Regions from separate parts of the Homo sapiens genome. Here regions 1, 2 and 3 are each linked to region 4. The links come from fine-mapping of genetic effects on gene expression. A gene starts in region 4. Each other region holds a variant in brackets. All regions are shown on one strand. Distances are between the middles of the regions.

Region 1 (5,153 bases), 39 kb after region 4:
ATAGATTTCTAGGCTTCGCATTACTAAGGCATTGTTCCTGTCTTCTGTTTTTCAGTGTTTCCACTGAAAATTTCAATGCCATTCAGATACCCAGTCCTATGTCTGTGGCTTTTTTCTCTCTGGAAACATTCAGGATATTTTCTTTATCCTTGGAGCTTTGGAATCTTTCGATAACATGTTTTGGTGCCCAAAGTATGTTTTCACCAAAAACTGAGACATGCTTGGGAGTTGAGATTGTCCATTGCCCATTATGGGCTCCCTTTACTATAGAACTGATAGACAGAAAAGGACTTACTACCCTTGATCCCAATTACTTGGGGAAAGACTTACTACCCTTGATCGCAATTACTGGGAGAAGTCGTATTGCTTACAATGGAGTAAGGAGGACTGTGTCTGGAATTCAGTGGGGAGCCTTTGATATCAACACATCTAGCAACAACCATCAGTGGGAGCCCTGAAACCCCACAAAGAGCATTACTAAAACCTTGGATCCTAAGGACAGACTGAGGCCATCCACTATTATTGGTTTAACTGTATTCTCCAAATAAGATATTTTGAAGTCCTAACTCCTAGTACTTCAGAATGTGTCCTTATTTGGAAGTAGGGTCTTTATAGAGGTAATCAAATTAAAATGAGATCATTAGGGTAGATCCTAATACTATATGGCTGGTCTCTTTATAAAAAGGAGAAATCTGGACACAGAGACAGATGCACACAAGGGGAAGACAATGTGAAGACACGCAGGGAGAACATCACGTGAAGACAGAGGATGGGAATGACGCTTCAACAAGCCAAGGAACACTAAAGATGACTGGCAACCAACAGTAGCTAGGAGAAGGCAAGGAAGGATTCCCCCATGGGTTTTAGAGGGAACACAGCCTCGTCAACACCTTGATTTCACACTTCTGGCCTCCAAAACTGGGAGATAATAAATTTCTGTTGTTTTAAGTCACCTAGTTTATGGTATTTTGTTATAATACCCTAGGAAACTAATGCACCCACCAAATAAAACAATGCCCATCTGGGGTGCCACCAGGATAAGGCGAATGTGGAATGAGTGATGGGAAAAGAAGGCTCTGATGTATCAGCTTGGCCCTAGCGTCCATCTACAGAGGCTGAAACAGTTACATTTAGTTATGACTTTTCCTTGCATTCTTACATGAAGGGCACTCATGGTGGCCAATGGCACGATTCAGATTTAGGTGAAACTGAAATGACATCACCACATGATGACACATCGGCTGATCGGAGTTTGTGGGAGGAAACCAATGTCCTCAGTGTCCTCCAAGCAAAAGGCAAGAATGTGCTGAGAGGCACAGGGGGTGAGCCAGGCTGGTTATTTTCCATTTGCCACTGCCTGTCTCGCCTCATCTTGGCCCATTTTCCTTCCTTCTCTGCCCTGCACTGTGTTCCCCAAAGCTGACTTCTGTGGGCTCCGCACAAGGCTTACTTGCTGTGATTATTATTTTTTTATTTTATAAAATATATACTTTTAAACACAATAGTATAATACAACATGCTTAAATTATGTTTCATGTGGAAAAAAATAAGGTGTATAAAGAAAACCTGAACATTTTCTCTCATTCCACCCTTTACTGCCCTGAGATAATGCTAATGGCCTGCTGTTCCTGTATTTCAACCCTCTCCTCCATGACTGTGCAAACACAAAACACACATACAGGATTTTGTTGTTTTTTGCTTTTACCTATAAAAAGAAAGGATACACTATACATTTACTCTGTCACTTCCAGTTTTCAATGGTGAGGTATACTGAACCCCCTTCAAGTTAGTATGCATAGATGTATTTTTGTACTAACTGCATAGTGCTTTATTGTGTGGACATGTCACAAAGTATTTAATCCTTCTACTATTGAGAAACATTAGACTTTTCATTTTTGAATACTACAAACTATTCTGCAGTAAAGTTTTTTTCTATGTGATTTTAATTGTATATTTTAGATTCCTTTCTAAGAATATTGCTAGGAGTGTGCATTTTTTTCACATTAATATTTGTTACCAGATTAGTAGCAATTTAAACTTTCTCTCTAAGTATATGATAACTGTTTCCTCACATTTCCTTCAGCAATGAAAATTATTTAATGGGTATCAATCTTTTTTTTTGAAATGGAGTCTCGCTCTGTCACACAGGCTGGAGTGAAGTGGCGTGATCTCAGCTCACTGCAAGCTTCGTCTCCTGGGTTCACACCATTCTCCTGCCTCAGCCTCCCGAGTAGCTGGGACTACAGGCGCCCACCACCACGCCTGGCTAATTTTTTTGCATTTTTAGTAGAGATGGGGTTTCACCGTATTAGCCAGGATGGTCTTGATCTCCTGACCTCATGATCCACCCGCCTCAGCCTCCCAAAGTGCTGGGATTACAGGCATGAGCCACTGCGCCCGGCCAATGGGTATCAGTCTTAGAACTATTACCTCAGTATTTATATATATATATATATATTTTTGAAACAGAGTGTTGCTCTCTTGCCCAGGCTGGAGTGCAGTGGCACAATCTTGGCTCACTGCAGCCTCTACCTCCTGGGTTCAAGCAATTCTCCTGCCTCAGCCTCCCAAGTAGCTGAGATCACAAATGTGCACCACTACGCCTGGCTAATTTTTGTATTTTTAGTAGACACAGGGTTTCACCATGTTGGCCAGGCTGGTCTCGAACTCCTGGCTTCAAGCGATCCACCCCTCTCAGCCTCCCAAAGTGCTGGGATTACAAGAGTGAGTCACTATGCCCAGCCTTTTAAATTTTCTTCAATAAATTTTATTTCACATATTTGAGATTCACAACATGATGTTATAGGACACAAATAGTAAAAGAGTTACCTTTTTTGTGTGTGTGACAAGAGCAGTTAAAATCTAATTACTTAACAAAACTCCCTGATAAATATAATTTTGTTAACTTTAGTCCTCATGTTCTGTATTAGATCTCTGGCCTTGTTGATCCTAGATATCTATTTTGT[A/G]TCCTTTGATCTATATCCCCCCATTTCTTCCCCCCAACCCCTGACCATGGTAAGCACTGTTTAATTCTCTGTGTATGTACCTGAGCTCTCTCCTTTTTTTAGATTCATCAGCTCCCCTGGTTCTCAGGCCTCTGCACTCAGGCGAGAATTACATCTCCAACTTTCTTGGACCCTCAGATCATGGGATTTCTTGGCCTCCATAATCACACAAGCCAATTCCTCATAATAAATCTCTTCTTTTCTATGTATCTTGTTGGTTCTGTTTCTGTGGAGAATCCTGACATGCCAATATACTTTCCATATGGTTTCTGATTGGGTCTGACCAATGGGAAGTTCCAAAGGATTCACAGGGTAGTGGAAGAGAGAGGTCTGGATATTTCTTTCCCTGGTTCTCCCTGCTGTGGGTTTACTCAGGTTCTGGCTGTGTTCCACAGTTACAGCTTCTGTTGTGTGGCCTCTCCTCCACGGCTCCAAGCTCTCTGTGGGTTCTGGTATTACTACTCCATCTCCTCACTTCTCTCCTCCACGGCTCCAAGCTCTCTGTGGGTTCTGGTATTACTACTCCATCTCCTCACTTCTCTCCTCCACGGCTCCAAGCTCTCTGTGGGTTCTGGTATTACTACTCCATCTCCTCACTTCTCTCCTCCACGGCTCCAAGCTCTCTGTGGGTTCTGGTATTACTACTCCATCTCCTCACTTCTCTCCTCCACGGCTCCAAGCTCTCTGTGGGTTCTGGTATTACTACTCCATCTCCTCACTTCTCTCCTCCATGGCTCCAAGCTCTCTGTGGGTTCTGGTATTACTACTCCATCTCCTCACTTCTCTCCTCCATGGCTCCAAGCTCTCTGTGGGTTCTAGTATTACTACTCCATCTCCTCACTTCTGCAGGCCTAGTGATGGAGGGGAAGGGATTCTTGCTATTGGTAATCCCTGGGCGCTCTATCATCCCTTGTTAGTTACCTTAGCCAGGCCCATATCTCCATAAATACTTCCTTCACTAGACTCTCTTCAGTTAAACCCTTGGAGTGCATCTTTCAGGACTCTCCCTGCAGAAGAGCTGAATGTTTTGAGGCCTGCCATGTTCACAAAGACAAGCTTGGTCTAGAAATTCACTCCATCTAAGGTTGTGTGAAGAGGAAGCAAAAATTCCCCAAGTGGGTTATTAATATAACAACAAGAGAAGCCACTCCCCTCCCCACTCCAGGGTTTCAAGACATGCATCAACAAGTCAGGCAGATTCCAGGAAATGCAAAAGGTGTGACTGAGATGAGCTTTACAAAAGCAACCCTCATGCACAGCTGGTGGGAATGCAAAACAGTAGTCATTTTGGAAAATAGTTTGGCATTTTCTTATAAACTTAAATTTACCATATCTATTCTCACACTGCTAATAAAGACAAACCCAAGACTGGGTAATTTATGAAGGAAAGAGGTTTAATGGACTCACAGTTCAGCATGGCTGGTGGGGGGGCCTCACAATCACGGTGGAAGGCAAAGGAGAAGCAAAGGCACATCTTAAATGGCAGCAGGCAAGGGACTTTGTGCGGGGGAACTCCCTTTTATAAAATCATCAGATCTCAAGAGACTTATTCACCACCACAAGAACAGTATGGGGGAAACCACCCCCACGATTCAATTATCTCCGCCTGGCCCCACCCCTGACCCTTGGGGATTACTACAATTCAAGGTGAGATTTGGGTGTGGACACAGCCAAACCATATCACCATATGACCCTGAAATCACACTCCTAGGTATTTACTCTAGTAAAATGAAAACCTATGTTCATACAAAAAACTGTACATGAATGACAATAGCAGTTTTCATAACTGCCAAAAGCTGAAAACAACCCAAATGCCCCTCAACTGCAGGATGGATCTGAAGCAGTGGTATGTTCATATGATGGAATACTGCCCAGGGACAAAAGCAGAGGCCCGCTGGGGACACTCAACTCGGATGCATCTCCAGGGTGTTATGCTGGGTGAAAGCGGTCAGTCTCTAAAGGTTTTATAAAAGTATGATTCCATTTATATGCCAATATTTTAGGGGTAGAGAAAAAATCAGCCGTTCCCTGAGGTCAGGGCTGGGGAGGATTTGATTTTAAAAGGGTAGCATGAGGGAGTTTTGAGGGGTGACGGAACTGTTCTGTATCTTGATTGCTGAGGTGATAACACAGTTCTGCATGTTATCA
Region 2 (5,153 bases), 140 kb after region 4:
GCCTACACTGCTGTAACCGGTGTTGCCCAGTAAACTATCTGGCATGCAAAATGCTAAGTATTCAAAGTACCTGGCATTCATGATCATTGTGATAGCAAACTGTTGACATTTGGTTTATTTCCCAAAGCCGGACCATTCGTACTTCTCTTAAATATTTTGGCTTTAGAGCTTTGTTGTTGATACAGATAATGTATCTCCTTGTTGCCCTGTTTCCCTTCTTGCTGCCCTGCATTTAGCTGCAATTTGCTTTAATGGAGTCATCCCCATGATCATGGAGAAATTGTTCAGTATTTTGATGTTTAGCTTTCATCTCATTTTGGATCGTTTATCTTGATAATTAACATTATTGCATGAAGACCCAGTTGAGAAAAAATATTCTGTAGGAAATTCATTCTTTAATAGTTAATATAAGCCTTCACATGCTGAGTGTCAAAACCTGCAATTCCTCTTGATCCTTAAAAGGCTTGTAAATAAAGACAGTTCAGTTGAAGAAACTATACTGTTAAAGTCAAATATTTTTGGAAATCAGCTTTGAGTCTTGGGGATTTAGAAATTTACGTAAATGATCTGACTCTCAGCAAGCTCTAAATAAACAATAACTATTTGATGGGGTAATTGAAAGAGAGCCTCCCATCAAGTGATCACTATCTGCAAAAGTGATAATTCACTAAAAACTTATGCCTCACTTTGTAATAACAATATCACAGTGGGAATTTTTAATCAATAAACTGGAATATAATCAGATTGGGGAATATGTAAATCTATATCAGTCCAGTGAAACCTACCAGCAGGGAGAGAAAAGATAAAAATGTAAAAATCAGATTGAATTTTGGGGGAAAGCTTAAAAGAAATGCAGTTATGCCTCGGCTGCCATACTCAGCATGGGACATAAAGAGCCCCACCACAGGGCTTGAATTTACAGGAGTCTGTCCAGCACAGCTTTATCCGACACTGAAGCTTCCTAACAAACAGAAAGAAATCTTACACTCTTGCTTGTTAGTATTTAATACATGCATTATGTGCTTTTTAATTTTTTGGTCCTACTAAGGAGTAGCTGATAGCGCTGTTTTGAAGGCATATCTACTGTGCCTCTGACTAGCAATAGGAAACCGGTTAAGTTATTCAACCTCTCTACATTTCAGTTTCAGGAAATGAAGTGGACAAAGAAGATCATCATTAGGCAATATGTACCTCCAATATTCTGTATTATGTGGAGATATCAAGTCCGTATGTGATTACACAAATCATAGTCCAAAAGAGTTCAGAATGAGACATATAGAATTGAAAGTCCTATTTATACAGATACTGGTTAAAGCCCAGGGATTAGATGGGTTTAAAATGCTTTACCGGCCGGGCGCGGTGGCTCACGCCTGTAATCCCAGCACTTTGGGAGGCCGAGGCGGGCGGATCACGAGGTCAGGAGATCGAGACCATCCCGGCTAAAACGGTGAAACCCCGTCTCTACTAAAAATACAAAAAATTAGCCGGGCGTAGTGGCGGGCGCCTGTAGTCCCAGCTACTTGGGAGGCTGAGGCAGGAGAATGGCGTGAACCCGGGAGGCGGAGCTTGCAGTGAGCCGAGATCGCGCCACTGCACTCCAGCCTGGGCGAAAGAGCAAGACTCCGTCTCAAAAAAAAAAAAAAAAAAAAAAAAAATGCTTTACCTCTATATAGAAAGGAGTACAGGACCAGGAAAGGGCCCAGGGGCATACCATGATTGAGCCGAGGAGACAGTAAGAGAGTTTCAGTGACAAAGGAGATGCAAGGAGACGATGGGGTTTCTGAAACCAGGAGAAGAAAGCCTTCATCATAGAAGCAAGTGATAAACTTCACTGAACACTTCTAAGACATTTCGGACAAGAATAGAAGAGCGACCTTTGGATTTCACTGCACGTAGCTTAACAAACGTTCATAAAGGCAGTGAAAACGGAAGCTCGGTTAGGGTGGTCTTAGGAGAGAATCCAGGTGATGACGTAGAGAATGCGACTATAGATGGCTCTCTCTAGAAGTTTTACTTTTAAGGGTAGCAGAGAACTAGAGTAGAGCTGCAGACATAGTTCCCCCTCCTCCCTCTCCTCCATCTCCAGTTTCTTCTTCTTTCCATGAGTGTAACAGAATGAAATTTAGGGCATAATCCTGTAGAAGGTAAGAAATTAACGATGCAGGAAAGAGATTGGATAATTGTCCAAAATAAATAAGT[T/C]CTCAGATGATGCAAGGCAGTGGGCTCTAGCACACAAAGGGGCTGACATCTGATAGGAATTTAGTTGTTTTATCCACATAACAGTTATTTTTTCAGAGAAAAATCGAATTGTGAAAATATAGCTGAAAACCAAACATTACCCCTATGTGTGTGGTAACTTGTGATGTAAAATGCATTTCTCAATAAAGGTCCTGGTCATAAATTTTAAAAGTAAAATACCTTGAGGGAGCTACAGTTAGAGGACAGCAGGATGAAGGATAATCATCAGAAAGAATACAAAGTGGGCCAGGCATGGTGGTTCATGCCTGTAAACCCAGAGCTTTAGGAGGTGTTGTTGGGAGGATCACCTGAGATCAGGAGTTTGAGACCAGCCTGGGCAACCCAGACCCCCATCTCTACAAAAATAATAATTAAAAAAAGACTACAGAGTAGAAAAAGCAGAGTGAAACAGAATCTTCAATACAAACAGTAGGGGGATTTTAGCAAAGAGTAGCTGACTTAGATGGTGCTAAGATTTGTATGGAGTTCAGTGCTGAGAAGTCTTTTTAACAAGTGATTTAAATGGGAATATTGCCTTGTTTACATAGCTCAAATAAAATGCAGTATAATGTGCAGAAAACAAAAAAAAACAGTAAAAAGCTTAAATAATCTTTATTCTTAGGACAATGTTTTTCAAATAAGGATTATGGCTCACTATTTGGTCATAACATAAAATACATTTCTTATTGTGGATGGCTCCAAGAAAAAGAAAACCCAAGTTTAAGAAGGCTCACCAATAGAGAGTTTACCTATGTCATATAAGAAGTCCCAGTTATACATCCACTAGTAATAGCTCCATGGCCAGGTACATGCTAGTATTTGCATTTTGGAACGGTTTTTCTCTCCCGTTTGTTGTCTCTTGGTCACAAGATGACAGATTATCCCAGGCCTCACGTTTACATTCGAAGACTAAAAACCACTGTGGTGAGTAGGAAATGCCCCTCCCCAGAGATGACTCCCAAGCCCTCATTCCCAGACCTGTGACTGTGTTGCCTTACATTGCAGATGTACTCCGCAGATGTGATTAAATTCAGGAGCTCGACATGAAGGGATTAACCTGTCTTATCTGGGTGAGTTCAATGGAATCATAAGAGTCGAGTGAGCCAGGAGATTCAGATAGGGAGGGGTGACCATGGAAGCAGAATAATGTGGAGTGAGAAAGACTATTCATGGGCTTATGAAGTTAACTGAGCAGAATGTAGGGTTTTCAGGATATTGGCAATGAGAAAATGATAGCGGTGAGTGAAATCATCTGGATGTTCCAGGGGAGAACCTGAATAGTTTTCTTTGCAGTTGGTCAGCTGTTCATTTTACTCAGAAACTGAGACATTATGCTACCTTTTTGCACATCCCTCCCCTGCCTTTCTTGTTCAACAGATGGCCGCCTGTACTAATGCTTTCAGGAATGTGAGGTTACTGGACACGAAAGCCATCAGCTCCTCCAAACTCATATATATATATATATATATGCTATCTATCTATCTATCTATCTATCTATCTATCTATCTATCTATCATCTATAGCTCACTGAAACCTTTGCCTCCCTTTTCAAGCAACTCTCCTGCTTCAGCTTCCTGGGTAACTGAGATTACAGGTGTGCACCATCACGCCCAGCTATTTTTTGTATTTTTTTGTAGAGACATCATGTTGGCCAGGCTGGTCTCAAACTCCTGACCTCAAGTGATCCTCCCACCTTGGCTTCCCAAAGTACTGGGATTACAGGCATGAGCCACCTTGCCTGGCCTCCATTATATTTTTAATCCTTCCCACCCCCACAAATCCTCTTGCACTTTGTCAGTCATTTGTCTCTCCTGAGTCTTTAATGTCTCTCGTTCTAATGATGCTTTCCCCTTAGATCAAGTCATACTCAACATTCTCTGTCTGTCTCCCTTTCTAAATCTACTGTGCTTAACCCTTAAATGCAAAGTGTTCCCAGATTTTCATCTTATCTAAACTCTCTCTTCACACTTTAATTAGGTGATCTTTTCTCTCACCTACAACTCTCAAATCTGTATCTCCAGCTCTGACAATACCCATGAATCCCAGGTATGTATACCTGACTGCCTGCTGGATAGTCACCTGAAGTTAAAAAAAAAGAATATTTATAATTGAAATTATTCCCACTCTTCTTTCATCCCACCCAAAACATGTGCATTTTCTTTGTTCCTTCTCTCTAGGACCATCTCCACTCTGCAGCCGACAACTGAAGCCAGACATTAGGGCACCATGGTTAACTCTCATTAGCTGGAAACATTATTGTTATTTGTTTAGCATAACTTAAATATGATGTATTTTATATATTTAAAAATATAATTTGTGACCCCACATAGGGTCCTGAAGTTGATGCAGATGCTTGAGGTATTGTATTGCATATGTTTATTTTCAGCTGACTTAGTCACTGGAGGCAGATGTGTGAAGGAAGTCTCCTTCAGTGACTCATCAGAGAAACTCAAAATGAGTTGCCAGGAATAAAACAGCATAATTTTAAAGGAATTCTCTGCTTAGACATTGTGCATCTGTCAAACTCAGACTGGATAAATTAATTACGCTCTGATAGGATAGCCCCAGAGAGCCAGCCTTTCAAGATCTATTCTTCTCTATAATCAATATAGTAATTTAACATTTGAACCTGCCTCCAAGCAAAAGGGCATACAACCAACTGTGAAAAGTCTTTGTATTCTACTCAGAATTCTTTGTTGGTAATGGGAAATTATTTTTAGTTAAAAAATCAAAAATTAAAAAGAAAAATTATTATTATGGCTACTATTCTTTTCAAGTTGAACATAAAAGTTGAGATCAGCCTGTAAACTTCTACGTTCAGGCAAAGAACACAAAAATTGATGAAGATAAAAAATGTGGTTGGTTTATTGGGAATAATAGTCATTTTTAATTAAAGAAAATAAAATATTAAAAGT
Region 3 (5,153 bases), 32 kb after region 4:
ATTCACCAGTAAAACCATCTTGGCCTGGAGTTTTCTGTGTAGGAAGGTTTTTAACTATCAATTCAATTTCTGTAGTAGACACAGGGCTATTCAGATGATCTACTTCTTCTTGAGTAAAGTTTAATAGTTTTGTCTTTCAAAGATTTATCCATTTCATCTAAGCTGTCAAATGTATGAGCATAAAGTTATTCATAAAACTGCCTTATCTTTTTAACAGCTACAGAATCTGTAGTGATGACATCTGTCTCATTCCTGACATTTTTATTTGTCTTTTTTCCCTCATCAGTCTGACTAAAGGTTTATCAATTTTATTGATCTTCTCAGAGAACCAGCTTTTGTTTTATTTTTACTCTTTATTTTCTATTTCAGTGATTTCTGCTCTGCTCTTTCTTATTTTCTTTCTTTTGCTTCCATTACATTGGGTGTAATTTGTTCTTCTTTTTCTATCTTAAGTAAAAGCTAAGTCATTGATTTTTCTTTTCTAATGCAGGTATTCAGTGCTATAAACATCCCTCTACCACTTAAATCGCATCCTACAAATTTTGATGTGTTTTTATTTCATTTGTTATATAAAATTGTCTAATTTTCCTTTGGATTTTGTGTTATCTATTTTTAATTCTATTGTGGTCAGTTAGGATTAGGGTTAAACATTAGGGTTAATTAAACATTTTATTTTAATTGCATCCCTTTCAACTCACTGAGACTTGTTTTATGGTCCAGAATATGGTCTATTTTAGTAAATATTCTACGTGCAATTTCAAAGAACAAATACTCTGAGCTTTTTGTAGTTCATAAGCGTGATGACTGGGTGTACACACATGTGTAAGATGTACCTCCCTCACACCTCGGTACAACATTGGCATATTACCCACCCCACATGAAGCACATTGGATACAACACTGGCACATTACCCATCCAACATGAAACCAAAGAATGTATATTCTGCTGTTGTTATATAAACATCAATTAGGTCAAATTGTTTGACAGTGAAACTTTGCATGGCAATTTTAACTTGAATTAACACAAAAACTTGAAAAAGTAAATTTTAAGTTCTAGGCGATACTGAAAAACAAAACATCCAGAATTCCACCAAATCCCTTAAAATACTCCACTTAATGGAATTTAGGTTAATAAAATCACTGAAGGAATATATTTCATGTCAAGAGATGATTAATCTATTGACCTAATTTAGAGAATCACAGCAGGTTAGAGCTGAATGAATCTCAGAGACTAGACCAAACGTCTATGTTTCAGTAACTCTGAAAGAATACAAGATGTGTGCGGGGCATCACACTCAATTTGTGACCACACTGCTTCACTCTGTGTTATTGTTTACCTGCTCCACTGTGCAAAAAATGTGAGCATCGTCCTGCTGGAAGCGCCTCACTCTGGTCAAGCCGCTGAGAGTCCCCGACAGTTCATTTCTATGCAGAACTCCAAAATCAGCAAATCTAATAGGCATTTCCCTCCAAGATCGTGGACGATGGGCAAACATTAGACTAGAAAAGATGTGGTAACACACAGCTTTTACACAGCACAGAAATATTAAATAATTATCTAAATATAAAGAAATTACAATTAAGCCTCAAGATTCATAAACTCCTTATTCTAGTTCTTAGATCACCAGGTTAAAAAAAAAATTCTTCCACAAATTAGTGAACCTTGCATTTACATCACTGCAGCACTCTGAGAAAGATGCTTGTCTATTATCTCTTCCCAGAAATGCTGTTCCCTCCCCTTATCCACACAGTGAATCACCATTTACTGTTTATGATTCATTTCAAAGGCTACTTCTTAAATGAAGCCCTCCTAGACATTTCCCAGACAGGGCTAGGCAGTTTCTCCTCACGTTCCTGGAACACCTCAAACATGCCATCATTATGGCACTGGTCTTTTTATAACAGATTGTCTACATGCATGGCCCTGCCCACTCTGCTCATGAGTTCCATGAGGGAATGGTTTGTGTCTTAATCACCTCTGCACTTCTAGCTCCAAGCACAAAAAGCACTCAACTATGTTCTCTGTTGAATGAAAGACTTCTCTCCTGCAGAAAGCACTCCTAGCTTCCATATCCCATTGCCTCTAAGCCACCGTGGTCTTGCTTTCTTATTCTGAGGTGTAAAAAGACAAACTTAAATTCTCTACTTTCATTATAAAGTACGAGGCTATAATTTTAAAGGATGCCTTTGAGAAGATGAGTTAAGAAATTGTTAACACAAGTGTTTTACAATGCAAAACACTAGCATAGCTTCTACCTTCTGTTTAGAAAGAGAGGATACAGAATGTTTACATACCGGTGTTCCTAAAATTAAAGTTATATATATTTTTTACATGACATCATCATAAAGTTAAATTTCTTCTCATCTTCACTTAAAAGGGCAAAGAGCTTTCTTCAGTGTTCAGTTACCGGTTTTAATAATTATCTTCTAGGTAAATTTACTTGAAACTATGTATGTTGATAATACAAAAACTAC[A/G]ATTGTTGGGATTGTTTTTTGTGGACAATTATGCCTATTCAGTTTCAGTTGTACAATATGTTTGTCTTACAAGGTTGAATTTGCATACCAACTTTATGATAATTAGTCTTTCATAGAATCAAAGACAGCATTGATTGTAAAATGTATCTTCATTTTATGTGCTACAAAGAAAGAAAATAACCTATTAATTAAATTATGATATAATGCTAAGATGCCACCAACTATAAGATGCATTTCAACTTCAGAAATGTTGAAATGTGGAAGAAAAATGGTATCTTGGAATCAGTGAAATCCAGAAACCCATTGATTATGACCTCATTGATCTTGTTATAATCCACCCAAACAGTATGAAAGAACTAAATATTCTGCAAATATGAACATGTGAAGTGCATTACTATAAGAAAGACAAATATTATAAAACTTATAAAATTGACACATAACATTATCCTTTAATCAGCACAAAAAAATGCAATGGTTACCAGCTAACATCCCATACCTGCCAAAGATCAAATATATTTTCAAAAGTAAATCCATTCTCCGGAATGAAACAACTTAGTAAAAATTAGTAATCACCACTCTTCAGATTAAAGGGACTCTTTCATTCCACAAAGCATTAAAAGATAATTGTGACGAAGCGTGCTATGTGCTCTCATGAAAAGGTCTGCTTCGCTTTTAATACTCACCAGTGCCCTGGACAATTCATGGGTTTGAGGGCAAAAGTGTCCTTTTCAATCTCAAAGGTAAACATGTTCTCGCTGTAATGCTGCCAGTGGCCTGAGGCTTCCCAGAGTTTACTGTTGTACATATTGGGAGAGAGCACCTCCGTGAAGTCCCGTTTGTGATATTCCTCCTTCAAGATACATGCATTCAACATTAAAATCTGCTAGGGCAGATCACAATTCCATGCAAAGTAACACTATGAGCAAATATTTTCAAATTGGGCTCATGTCCTATATTAATTCATGATTAATGTACCCTCAGTTTTAGGTGTGGTGGTTTCTGGATCTTGGAAGAAAGATTTACATATGCTTAGTATAATTTCTATTGAGTATATTTATTTTATAGCATATAACAGTATATAGTATATAATGTTTTAGTTCTTTGAAAAGTAGTAATTGAAATACAATATATATAGAAACTCACTGTAACTACTCCAAAGTCCTTCTAAACAGGTTTTTTCCTATTAAGAGGCAGAAAAAATTTATAATTTAATAAGCCTGAATGCCATGTTGCATGTTATAATTTTGATTTATTTAGTTTTAAACAGAAATAAGAATTTTAGTGTATAACGATTTAAGTAGTTGAAATTATTAAGTCATGAGCTGGCCTCTCTCCCTCCCTACCTATTAACAGCTTCCCTAATTGAATTACTGGAGACAGGAGAAGAGAGTTTTTTTCCAAGCAAAGTTTTAACTTTATTTAAACTTTCTTTAAAAACAAAACAATTAGGTGATCTTTGTTGGGTAAATATTTTATGTGCACTTTCCAAAAATGCATATTCTGCTGTTGTTTTACAAATGTCAATTAGGTCAAATTGTTTTGACAGTAATTTGATAGGGACCCTTTGCATGACAGTTTTAATTTGGATGAACACAAAAAGCTGAATAAGTAAGAATTCTGAGAATCCTTAGATTCTCAACATTTGTAAACCACTTAATGGACATCTGGCCCAAATCTAGAATGCCATGTATACTTTGAGCACATTTGAAAAACTGTTTTCACAGCTAAAAAAACATAAAACATAACATTTTAAGATTACTAACAATGGTTTTATACAACTGAAAGGAATGTTGTCTGTTATTCTTCAGCAGGGCATCCTGGCAGTCCACGGTAGACAGCTTAGGTCTCGGCCATTCAGTGAGCTGCTTTACCTATCCTTTGTTTTTACTAAATTAGAAAACCTTAACAGGTAGGGTGTGGTGGCTCACGCCTGTAATCCCAGCACTTTGGGAGGCCAAGGTAAGTGCATCACCTGAGGTCAGGAGTTTGAGACCAGCCTGGCTAACATGATGAAACCCCATCTCCACTAAAAATACAAAAATTAGCCAGGCGTGGTGGCACACACCTGTAATCCCAGCTACTCAGGAGGCTGAAGCAGGAGAATCGCTTGAACCCAGGAGGCAGAGGTTGCAGTGAGCCAAGGTCACGCCATTGCACTCCAGCCTGGGCAACAAAGCTAGACTCCATCTCAAAAAAAGAAAGAAAATGTTTAACAAAATGATGTCATTAAGAATGGCAGTGATTATTGGCTATTTCAGATGGTTCCATATATTCAGATTAAACAAGGTCCCAGAAATTAAGGGTGAGTGTGTGGGTGTGTGTGTGGCAGGGTGTGCGTGTTCGCTTTTACTAAAAACTACTTTTAAAGTCTAGCTCAGGAGATACTGCTCAATGCATTTTTAATTCACTCTGAATGCAACCATGTTAGGAATGTATGTCTTCTTGAGATGTTTAGAAATGATTTTAAACTATCCCTGCAATGGACTGAATGTGTCTCCCCCAAAATTGTGATATTGATACCTTAACCCCAAGGTGATGGTATTAGGAAGTAGGGCCTCTGACAAGTGATTAGGTCATAAGGGTAGAGCCCTCATGAATGAGATTAGTGTCCTTATAAAAGGATTCGCAGAGAGCTCTCTGGTCCTCTTTCTGCCATCTGAGGTTACAAGAAGTCAGCAG
Region 4 (5,153 bases):
GTGATCATTAGCAAGTAGACACTGCACTGGAAGGGAAGAAGCATGGGACTGGAGTCAGAGACACCTGCAATTAAAGCAGAATTCTGCCCACGGCCAGCTGTGGGACCTGGTGAGCACCACACTTGTAAAACATTACTTCATTCCTGCCTCCCACGTGGCCGTGAAAACTAAAGGTGCTCATATACAAATAATGTATAGAAAATTCTGGGTATACATTAAGGGCTTAAAAAAAAGACTATCATTTTGTAAGTTGAAAAAAAACTTACAGTAGGGTTTTGCAAAATCACAGAGGAAGTCTGTGGCAAAACTGGAACTAGAACCCAAATCTCTCCATTTCCAATCCCGTGTTCTTTTCATCTGAATTCACTAATTCAGAAATGAAGCCACTGACATCCTCAGGGCATCAACTTTAAAATGTCATTATTTCACACTGGTACTTCGATAAGCCACATTTGCTAATATAATATTTACAGTTTTACGCTACCAAAGTTCAAAACAGTTCTCTACTTTAATAACATCTTCAGTAAGCTGCAACTTATTTCCAACCAACCTAATGAGTGTGCAATGTATTTTTACCAACTGAAAGGATCAAAATTGCAAGTATTCCTGAAAAGAAGGGCTTTCAAAAGCCTGCAAGAGTTAAGAACTCTTGTGCTTTCTCTAAAAAGTAATCTGAGTTTAAAATTCAAGTGCACTGCTGTTTTTTACATCCAAATAAGAATCAGTAAAATATCTCTGCCAGTTTCAATTCACTGAAGTAATGTCACTTTAAAGTGATGAAATTATAGTCAGAGCCTCCACCTAGCAAAACACACTAATGCTTGTTTAAAACTGGTCCTACTTTACTCACTGTATTAAGGAACAATTCTACAAAATACTCTTTTTGATCCCGTGACTATGTGGCTGGAAGGTGGACACTTAGAATCACAAAGCAGAAATGACTTTAGGTCGTCAGACCAACCCCACCGCTTTAAAGATGAGGACCAAGGTCCAAAGAGGATAAATAATTTGTTCAAGATCCCAGTAGCAAAACCAGATCTAGATTTCAAGTCTCCATCAGTCCCGCTGTAATCCTTCCATTTCCACAGTCCTGAGGGAGCCTTTAATATTCCAACATCAGGAACAGGGTTTTAGCAGTAGAGGAAATTTGCTGAAGGGAAAGAAGCACGGACTGAAGGTTATTTTGATGGATGAAGTGGAAAAATAATAGAAATAAGGTGACAAATGAGCGTGGGATTGGAAAAAGAGAGGAGGCAGAAACGTCAAAAGGTATAAATACGAAGACTATCTACTGAAAATGGCTGTGTATCTACCCTTAATTCACATAATCTAAAATACAATAAATATTCAAAAATGGAAAGTGACTTCGTATACTAAAGGGAATTTTTATAAAAACAAAGAGAAACTACTAGAGATAACTACATGTATTTACTAGAATAGAAAACGTCTAGTACCTGCTGCCCTGGGAACTACTGTGAATGTGCGTGTTGGGCCCGGATCCTTTATTGACTGAGCCAGCGCCTGCGATTGCTCTAAATTTAAGGATCGTACAATTAGAGAAACACGTTATCCCGGGACAAGAAAACCTTATTTTGTGTGGTTAACACGGCGGGTCTACACCAGGCCAATAAGCTGCTCATGAAAACCTCACGGCTGGTCAGCCAGAAAACACAAAGCTTAGGGACGAAACGTCAACAGAGTAGACATCAGTTCAGGTCAGCCGGCAACGAGGGACCGAAGGATGACATCGCGCTCCAGTTCCGCCTCCCCGGCCCAGCCCCCAAGCGCTCCATCTCCGTGCCAGGGCTCCGCAGCCGCGATGGCGGGCTCGGTGTCGCCGGAGCGGAGGGGCGGCCTCGGGCCGGGCGGCCAGGGCGCCAGACTCCAGATGCAGCGACAAGCGGCCCGGAGCCCGGCACTCGGCCTCCTCCCCGCGTCAGCGTCCGCCCGTGGGCCCGGCCTCCTCGCAGCTCCCGGGGCCCTGCTGCCACTCAGCCCCACCCGGCGCTGAACCCAGCCTTTGACTCACCACCGCCCGACAGAATGCAGAACTGCGAGAGGAAGAGCAGCACGCGACACAAGGCGCGGAGGCCCCTCAGCGGGAGCACCCCTCCCGCCATCTTGCCAGCGCCTGCGCACTTCCGGGCCGGGGGGCGGGGCGCGCCTGGGAGCCGGAGCGTGAACTGGACGCAGGCGCGCTGCGACTCCTGGCGGCCGGCGTTTGCGCTTTCGCTGTCCTCGCGCGGGTCGCGGGTTTTCTTCCGGTTGAGCCTTCTGGGAGGTCCCCGAGGAGGATGCGAGCCTGGGAGGTTGTTCCATTTCCACGCGCCCCTCACGCCCTTGGACGAGGCCCTCACCCCTGGTTCCACTGCAGGAGACCTGTTAAAGGTCATCCGTGGACCGAAATGCGCGCCCGAAGCAACCAAGAGCAGAGGCGGGCGAACGCGGGAGGCTGGCCGCCCCAGTGTGTGGTCGGATGTTGTGTGCTGGATCTCGTGCGAAGGTTCCGAGGACACTATCGCGTGGCGTTTCATCCTAAAGACACTTATTTACAGTCGGGGAAGCGGCCCCGGGACGACGAGGGCCCGAGGGACCCCTCCCCTGGGGCCGGCGCTCAGGCCTGCCGCGGCTTTCACTTCTGGCCGGCCTCTTGAAGATACGCAGCACTTCCAGAAAGTTCCTCTCAGGCCTGGAGAAGCAGGATGGCCCGAGGCGCTGGGAAGTGAGGGGAGGGTCCAGAGCCCAGCCCTGCCTGGGGAAGGTCGCGGCCGTCTGGGGAGCCGCGCTCAGGCCCCAGCTTGCGGAGACCCTTGCCGGTTTCTGTCACAGCACACCTGGGAGAAAGCGCTGGTGACAGGTGCTCTCCTCCCACCCACGTGCTTCGGGATCGTTCATTCCGCGGTCTTCTGACTACCACCCCCTCACGTGCATGTTTGCTGAATGACTTTTTAAAAAATACATGGAAAAGTGCCGGCACATAAGCCCTGAATGTTAGCTTTAAAAATCGTATCACGGCCGGGGGCGGTGAATCACGTCTGTAATCCCAGCACTTTGGGAGGCCCAGGCGGGCGGATCACGAGGTTAGGAAATCGAAACCATCCTGGCTAACAACACGGTGAAACCCTGTCTCTACTAAAAATACAAAAAAATTAGCCAGGCGTGGAGGCACGCGCCTGTGGTCCCAGCTACTGGGGAAGCTGAGGCAGGAGAATCGCCTAAACCCGGGAAGCGGAGGTTGTAGTGAGCCGAGATCGCGCCACTGCACTCCAGCCTGGGTGACAGAGCGAGACTCCGTCTCAAAAAATAAATAATAAAAATCATATCACACAATCTGCACCTTATACTACTACACAAGCCTGATATATATTGTTTTGTTTGCCAACTGTTTCACTGTTCACATCCCTCAGGAAGTTAACTAAATGATCAGTATATTGAAAAGAGATTATTTCTTACATTTCTTTTGAATTTCACAGCATATCGCAAAATAAACAATACTTCTTGTTTGGTAGCTGAATTCTCTATTGACATAATGCCATTTTAATTCAGTTCTGAGCACGTAGAGCATTCCTCTCTTTAAAATCTGAAATCCATTTCAGTACATAAATCCATGGAATGTCATCCCATCAAAAAAGTAACAACTCTAGGTGAGCGGCTTAGTGGTGGTAGAAGCCCACAGCTGAAACGCTGGAAACACTGATGCAATTCATTTGGGAATTTATTTTTTTCTAAAGCGGAACAAAACCTAATTATGAATAAGAAACATTTAAATGGCAACTCTTAACCTATAGTGCAAACACCAGATTCCACAAAACTGAATTCCTTTGTCAGTAATCCAATATTTAGCAGTAGCTGCTGCTTTTGTGGTTGTTGGTTAGTTAAAATTAAGTAATGATTCCAGTTTAGAAGATAAAGTTTCAGTGTGAATTTTAGTAGAAGTCATAAAAATACCTGAGACATATTAGAAAATAAGATTTTCCCTCCTATTTAAAAAAAACTCTGCAGACTTTTATTTGAAGCCCATCTTTTGAAAATCACTAACATTTCATAATCATTTCCTAGTGTTTTGTTTCACTTTCTCGATGAATAATATTTCCCCATTTAAGTTTCTCAAGGCATTGATTGCTGGAAAATTTCCCACGTGCCCTCTAAACGTCCCCCGTGGACATGAGTAAATTAAACTTCGTGCATGTCAGCTACACGTTCATCGTCTCCTTTCTCAGCTGAGGCCATGAGTGGACCCATCAGTGGCTCCAAAGTCGTAGAAGTACTAACATGTTAAGAAAAATACATTTTTAAGGGTCAAAACAAAGTTACACAGAAGCAAATATCAGGGAAGGACTTCAAAAGGCCTCCTCAGCATTGAGTGTCCGTGTCTTCCTGAGATTCTTCAGTTTATCAATGGCAGAAGTTACTAAAATCTCTCCATGAATTTTGTTGTCTCTTGTTCGCACGTTTACAGCATTATCTATCTTTTCCTTTTCTCCAACCACTGCAGAAAAGAAAGGTAAAGAAATGTATTTTAAATCAGCAATTTACCAAACATTAAGTCAGCAGTCCCATGACATGTTTTTATCAAGTTTTTCTTCACTAATATTAAATATCATCTAATGAGCATTTGGTTCATCCTCTGATAGTTAAGTTTCTTGAGGGAAGCAATGACTTCTGATCCCATCTCTCTATTGTCCACCTGAGAGAACAGCTCTTGTGGTCCTGGGGTGCAGATGAGAGGGGGGAGCTCTTACAGACTCACACTGACTGCACCTGGCACTAGGGCGCAAATGAGAGCGGGGAGCTCTTACAGGCTCACAGTGACCCCACCTGGCACTAGGGCGCAAATGAGAGCGGGGAGCTCTTACAGGCTCACACTGACCCCACCTGGCACTAGGGTGCAAATGAGAGCGGGGAGCTCTTACAGGCTCACACTGACTCCACCTGGCACTAGGGCGCAAATGAGAGCGGGGAGCTCTTACAGGCTCACACTGACCCCACCTGGCACTAGGGTGCAAATGAGAGGGGGGAGCTCTTACAGGCTCACAGTGACTCCACCTGGCACTAGGGCGCAGATGAGAGGGGGGAGCTCTTACAGGCTCACACTGACCCCACCTGGCACTAGGGTGCAAATGAGAGGGGGGAGCTCTTACAGGCTCACAGTG

Alleles and levels. Alleles are on the strand shown, and positions count from the first base shown. SD is a standard deviation of normalised expression in the study named. Not every link is listed here.
For the expression in cerebellum of the gene that starts at base 2,140 in region 4, A is the high allele of the variant in region 1 and G is the other (moderate effect, 0.69 SD a copy in GTEx).

The links. PIP is the estimated chance that this variant, and not a neighbour inherited with it, causes the effect.
Region 1: its variant is fine-mapped to the expression of TM2D3 in cerebellum (GTEx, PIP above 0.99). The same link has a PIP of 0.9 or more in pancreas and prefrontal cortex.
Region 2: its variant is fine-mapped to the expression of TM2D3 in whole blood (INTERVAL, PIP 0.94).
Region 3: its variant is fine-mapped to the expression of TM2D3 in unexposed skin (GTEx, PIP 0.96).

Annotation. Positions count from the first base shown.
Region 1 is chr15:101,688,836-101,693,988 of GRCh38, forward strand. All of the region lies in intron 10 of TARS3 (threonyl-tRNA synthetase 3), which reads right to left. Among named protein-coding and RNA genes, the nearest start is that of TARS3, 33 kb to the right of the region's middle. The variant A/G (reference allele first, on the strand shown) is at 2,967.
Region 2 is chr15:101,790,992-101,796,144 of GRCh38, forward strand. No RefSeq gene overlaps it. Among named protein-coding and RNA genes, the nearest start is that of OR4F6, 9.9 kb to the right of the region's middle. The variant T/C (reference allele first, on the strand shown) is at 2,200.
Region 3 is chr15:101,682,739-101,687,891 of GRCh38, forward strand. TARS3 (threonyl-tRNA synthetase 3) reads right to left here. Exons shown (of 19, transcript NM_152334.3): 11 at 3,158-3,324; 12 at 1,337-1,499. It overlaps LOC124903609 (small nucleolar RNA U13), which reads left to right and starts at 777; the gene lies at 777-878. The variant A/G (reference allele first, on the strand shown) is at 2,475.
Region 4 is chr15:101,650,242-101,655,394 of GRCh38, forward strand. TM2D3 (TM2 domain containing 3) reads right to left here and starts at 2,140. Exons shown (of 6, transcript NM_078474.3): 1 at 2,030-2,140; 2 at 1,455-1,532. The coding sequence starts at 2,120. TARS3 (threonyl-tRNA synthetase 3) reads right to left here. Exons shown (of 19, transcript NM_152334.3): 19 at 3,355-4,489. The coding sequence ends at 4,341. RefSeq lists silencers at 1,728-2,287, 2,528-2,717 and enhancers at 2,378-2,437, 2,544-3,434.